Linked DNA regions of Homo sapiens: region 1 is linked to region 2. Evidence: fine-mapped expression QTL. A gene starts in region 2. The other region holds a variant in brackets. All regions are shown on one strand. Distances are between the middles of the regions.

Region 1 (2,900 bases), 32 kb after region 2:
TAGATCATAGCACACTGTAAAGCTAAACTCCTGGCCTCAAGCGATCCTCCCACCTCAGCTTCCCTAGCAGCTAGAACTGCAGGCACATGCCACAATGCCTGGGTAATTTTTTATATTTATTTATTTATTTATTTATTTATTTATTTATTTATTTATTTATTGAGACCTAGTCTTGCTCTGTTGCCCAGGCTAGAATACAGTGGCACGATCTCAGCTCACTGCAACCTCCACCTCCCGGGTTCAAACGATTCTCGTGTCTCAGCTTCTCAAGTAGCTGGGATTACAGATGTGCACCACCACACCCGGCTAATTTTTGTATTTTTAGTAGAGATGGAGTTTTGCCATCTCTACTCATTGACCAGGCTCATCTCAAACTCCTGACCTCAAGTGATCTGTCAGCCTCTGCCTCCCAAAGTGCTGGGATTACAGGCATGAGCCATTGTGCCTGGCCAATTTTTATTTTTGCAGAGGTGGAGGTGCCTTTCTATGTTGCCCAGGCTGGTCTCAAACTCCTGGCCTCAAGTGGTCCTCCCACTTCAGCCTCCCAAAGCGCTGGGATTACAGGCATGAGCTGCCGTGCCCAGACAAGTAGCTCCCTTACTAGCCTTCCCTCTCTTGGCTTCCTTCCTTGCCCTGTCTTACTTCCCTCTCTCTCTTCCTATATACCAGGAATCACCTCCCAGTGAATGCTGCGTTCAAGGTCTTGTCTCGGCATCAGCTTCTGGAGCATCCCAATCTAAAACACTGCCATGAACCGTGATTGGGACTTGGGCTTCTATTTTTATTTTTATTTTGAGACGGAGTCTCGCTCTGTCTCCCAGGCTGGAGTGCAGTGGCATGATCTCGGCTCACTGCAACCTCTGCCTCCCGGGTTCAACTGATTCTCCTGCCTCAGCCTCCCCAGTAGCTGGGACTACAGGCACATGCCAGCATGCCTGGCTAATTACTTGTATTTTTAGTAGAGATGGAGTTTCACCGTGTTAGCCAGGATGGTCTGGAACTCCTGGCCTCCCAAAGCGCTGGGATTACAGGCGTGAGCCACTGCGCCAGGCCAGGACTTGGGCTTTTCCTGAGCTTGAGAGCAGTGGCCACTGCCCAGTGGTGAGCAGAGGAGGGAAATAGACTGAAGGGGGCTGGGGAGGAGCAGGGAAACCAGTTGGATGCGACCATG[A/T]TCCTTCAGAGCGAGCTGAAGGTGGCCTGGAGCAGGGTGAGAGACGTGGGAGTAGGGAGAGGCAGTTCCATCCTGGGTACACTTGGAAGGAGGAGCCAACATAACTTGATGCCTGCTTAGATGTGAAATGTGGGAGGCAGTGAGGTGTCTAGGGTGGCTACAAGGGGGTTGGCCTGAGCAAAGGAAGGATGGAGTTGCCTTTTGCTGGGATGAGAAGATTGATGGTGTTGGGCAGATGGGGCAGGCTGTTGAGATGCCTGTTAAGCACAGGACTGACAAAGCTGGGCTGGGAGACAGGCAGGTACTTGGGAACTCAGGAGGGAGTCCAGGCTGCAGGTGTACGTTGGAGGGTCCTCACAAGTTAGACAGCATTCAAAGCCAAGACTGGATAAGGTCTCCAAGGCAGTAAGTGTCAAAAGAGAAGAGACTGGCTGGGCGCGGTGGCTCACGCCTATAATCCCAGCACTTTGGGAGGATGAGGCGGGCAGATGTCTTGAGGTCAGGAGTTCGAGACCAGCCTGACCAACATGGTGAAACCCTGTCTCTACTAAAAATGCAAAAATTAGCTTGCCATGGTGGCGGGCACCTGTAATCCCAGCTACGTAAGAGGCTGAGGCAGGAGAATCTCTTGAACCTAGGAGGCGGAGGCTGCAGTGAGCCGAGATCGTACCAGTGCACTCCAGCCTGAGCAGCACAGCAAGACTCCATCTCAAAACACACACACACACACACACACACACACACACATTAAAAAAAAAAAAAAAGAAGAGGTTTCCAGGATGAGCCCCGGGCACTCGGTGTTTGGAAGCTGGGAGAGGGAAGAAGGGTGCAGCAGAGGGTTTGGAGAAGGAGTGACCGCAGGGTGGGAGGAAAGAGAGAACAGGAGAGAAATGGAAGCAAGAATGGACCACACTTGATGGAAAATTATCTGATAAAATATTTTTAATTAATTTTGGTGTATTTTGAAACAATCACAAATTTACCAAAAAAATTTGCAAGGACAGTACAAAACTGTTTTGTTTGGTTTTACCATGAACAAAAGTATTTATTTAGAATGAGAAAAGTCACAACATAATACAAATTTAAAATACCACAAAATGGCCAGGCATGGTGGCTCATGCCTGTAATCCCAGCACTTTGGGAGGCCAAGGCAGGAGGATTGTTGAGCCCAGGAGTTCAAGACCAGCCTGGGCAACGTAGCAAAATTTAGCTAGAAATGGTGGTGCATGCCTGTAGTCCCAGCTATTCTGGAGGCCAAGTAGGGAAGATCCCTTGAGCCCAGAAGGTCAAGGCTGCAGTGAATTGTTGATCATGCCACTGCACTCTAGCCTAGGTGACACAGCAGGACTCTAGCTCTAAAAAATAAAATAATAAAATACTATGAACATCACAAAATTCAGAACAATACCATATTAGTATTTCATTCCTATATTATTAATCAACTGGCTGATGTAACACGCTTCCTACATAATTTAGCTGTCTACCCTGATCACTTCTTCAAATAGCAACAATAATATATGTTTTTATAGAGAGAATAGAAAAGCAATTTTGCATTTCCTCTAGAGTGATTGATCCAAAATTGTGATTTTTTATTATCAATATTGGAGGAAGCAAAACTTCTTTTTTTTTTCTTTTTTTGAGATGGAGTCTCGCTCTGTCACCCATGCTGGTCTCAAACTCCTGGGCTCAAGCAAGCCTCCTGCCTTGGCCTCCTAAAGTGCTAAGACTA
Region 2 (2,900 bases):
GCCGGAGCCGGCGGTCGGGACCCAGGCGCCGTTCCGGCCCGTGCGCACCCGCCCCGCGGTCCCAGCCGGTCTCCGGCCCGGGCGTCCCTGGAGCCAGGCGGGGGCGCAGTGCCGGCCAGTCGCGCGCTCCGTTTCCTAGGAGCCGGGAAATGGTCGCCGAGGAGGAGGAGGAGGCACGGGCGGGGCGCAAAGGAAACAGGAGGAAGAGGAAGGGGAGGAGGAGTGGGAGTGGGAGAAAAGGAGGAAGGGGCGGCCGAAGCGGAGACTGGGGAGGGGCGTCCGGGGCGCGGACCTCGGCCGCGGGGAGTCTTGGCTGCCGCCGTCTCCATCGCGCCGCGCGCGTAAAGGAAATGGCGCGTCTAGCCGCGAGCGGTCGGCCCGGTGCCCCAGCGCGTCCCTCCCCCGCGGCGGCCGACCGCGTGTCCGCAGACGTCACGGGAGAGGGGCAGCGGGGCAGAGACCCTGGGAGGGCGGCCAGGGAGCGGGGGAGGGGCGGCCTGGCCCCCGGCTCCGCTCCAGCCCCGACCGACTGGCAGCCCAGTTTCTTCCCAAGTCCCGCCCCCAGCCCCGGGCGCCGCGGCGGCGGCTGCTCTCCTCTTTGTAACCGAGGAGTCAAGAAATGTGAGAAACGTGCCCTGTGTTACTTATTTGGGAGCCGAAAATTTATGCCCAGCTGAAAGCGCCCGGGGAAATATTACATCAGATGAAATGACAATGATTAAAATCAGCCTCTCCCCCGCCCCCTCCCCGAGCCCGGAGGAGGCCCGGGCGCCGCGTGGCCGGCCGGCGGGGGGCGGGGGGCTGGGCCGCGGAGGGCGCTGGGGCCTGGGCGCACCGCTCCCGGGAGGGTCCTGGCCGCGGCCCCGGCGGGAAGGCGCGGGCTTCGGGAGAGGCGGGTGGGGATCGCCCGGCGAAAGGAGGGGAAACGGCGCGTTTTTGTCGCCAGGCGCGGGCGCGCGGAGCTAATTGCGACTCTAATCCTCTGCCCCGCGGCGCAGCCGAGCCCCGAGCCAGGAGTCGCCGCGCGCGCCCGTTCGCGCTGGGTAATTTGGGGCCGGATCGCTGCCCTTTACGTCCGGGCTGGGCCGCGGCGAGGCGCTGGCTAGGGGCTGGAGTGGGGGGCTGGTTTTCTCTCCAGCAATCGAGGGAGGCCGCCGGAGAGAGAGGAGGGAGGAGAGGAGGTGGGAGCGGCGGGAGGGCAGCCGGAGAGCGGCGCGAGGAGGAGGCGGCGGCGGCGGAGGCGGCGGCCGCGAAGAGGGGAGGAGGCGAGGGGAGGGTGGGGAGGGGAGGCCCCGGCGCGCCGCGCCGCGAGGGGCCGCGTGAAGCGGGGGCCGGGGCGGGAGGGGTGGGTGGGGGGAGGGTTGGGGGCGAGAGAGAAAGTAACTCCAGGACGAGACCGGAGCGACCCGCGCAGCGAGCATAGGCGGCGAAGCTGCGCCCGGCGCCCGAGACCGGCAGCTGCGTGGGGCGGGGGCTGCGCCCGAGCCCGATCTGCCGGCTCCGAGGTAAGCTCAGCGCGGGCGGCCACCGCTCAGAGCCGCGCAACCCTGCCCCGAAGTGGCTGCGATACCGAGAAAGTCGCCCGGCCAGGGTCTGGACCTGGGCGGGGGCGGCCGCTTTGTCCCTCTGCTGGGCGGCGGGGGCTGGCGGCGCGGGGGTGCCCAGCACAAAGGCCTGGTGCAAGAGTGGGGTTGCCCACGTGGGCTGGTCCTGGCCGCGGGTGGACCCTCCCCACGCGGGCGGTCTCGGAGCTTCCTGCCGCGCGGTGTGTGTGTGTGTGTGTGTGTGTGTGTGTGTGTGTGCGCGCGCGCGCGCGCGCGCTTGTGGAGGTCCCCGCACTCTGGCCCCTGTTCTGGGCCGAGCGCCCTGCAGAGCTGGCGAGTTTCCGGGGTCAGAAACGGGCTCACGCAACTGGGGCTTCGGGATGCACAAGTCCCGGCTTGGCGCCCAAAATCAGAGAAAGTCTCCAGTGGGACAGATGTGCGTCCTCTGACGCCCACCCCACGAGTCCGAAACCTGGCAGGAGGGGCTGTCGCGCTGGTGGTGGTCCCGGGCGCGCAGGGTTTGGGGCTGGGAGAGGGGCCGCGATGGGAGGGATCGCCGCCTGCAGATCCGGTTCCCCGCTGCCCGCCCGCACCCCCTGACCTGGACGCGCGCACCCGGCACACACTCGCAAACACACCCGGGGGCGGACCCCCGCCTCTGCAGCGCCTTTCTGTCTTCCGGCGGCCCCCACCCGCGACTGCAGAAAGATAAGCTTCAAGTTTTCGCTCCGTATCTCAAATGTGCATGAAGGAATTTAACTGCACGAGTGAATAACAGCATTAGTTTCAATTAATTTTTTTTTAATCCCGGCAACAATAAACTTTGAGAACAAAAGCGCTTTTACGTCCTTAATTAGGCGAGCTTCCCATCTGTGGTCTCCAAGTGTCTGCCTCTTGATTTAACTTTGTCCCCGCCCCGCCTCCGCGGCAACCCCTCCCAGCCCAGCCCCGCGCTTCGGGTGCCGCGGCCACCCCGCCCCGCGGCGCCTCCAGCCTTGGCCCAAGCCCTCTCCCGTCGCCCCTAAGTTCACACCGGCCGGCTGGCTCCGCGGCGGAGGCGGGAGGGGGGGGGTGGGGAGGCTGGCGCGCACCAGGTGGCCCGCCTGCCTCTCCGGGGCCACCCCTGGGACAATTGTGCAGGCCCCCAGGACTTTCGCCCCGGGCCAGCGCCCTGAGTGCGGAGCCGAGGGGAGCTCGAGAGGCGCCTTCTGTTTACCTTTTATGGTTAAAATAACAGCTTAGCAAAGAAGCGACTTCAGAAGAAGCGATTTAGTGAAATCGTCTCAAGCTGCCGCAGCTCAGCCAGTTTAATCACCCCCAGAGAGCCGAACAACTGCGAGCGCAATGGGACACAAA

The links. PIP is the estimated chance that this variant, and not a neighbour inherited with it, causes the effect.
Region 1: its variant is the best candidate, but not a certain one, in a credible set for the expression of KCTD15 in blood mononuclear cells (TOPMed, PIP 0.52).

Annotation. Positions count from the first base shown.
Region 1 is chr19:33,827,385-33,830,284 of GRCh38, forward strand. No RefSeq gene overlaps it. Among named protein-coding and RNA genes, the nearest start is that of KCTD15, 32 kb to the left of the region's middle. The variant A/T (reference allele first, on the strand shown) is at 1,172.
Region 2 is chr19:33,795,483-33,798,382 of GRCh38, forward strand. It overlaps KCTD15 (potassium channel tetramerization domain containing 15), which reads left to right and starts at 1,388. Exons shown (of 7, transcript NM_001129994.2): 1 at 1,388-1,505. RefSeq lists a silencer at 1-86.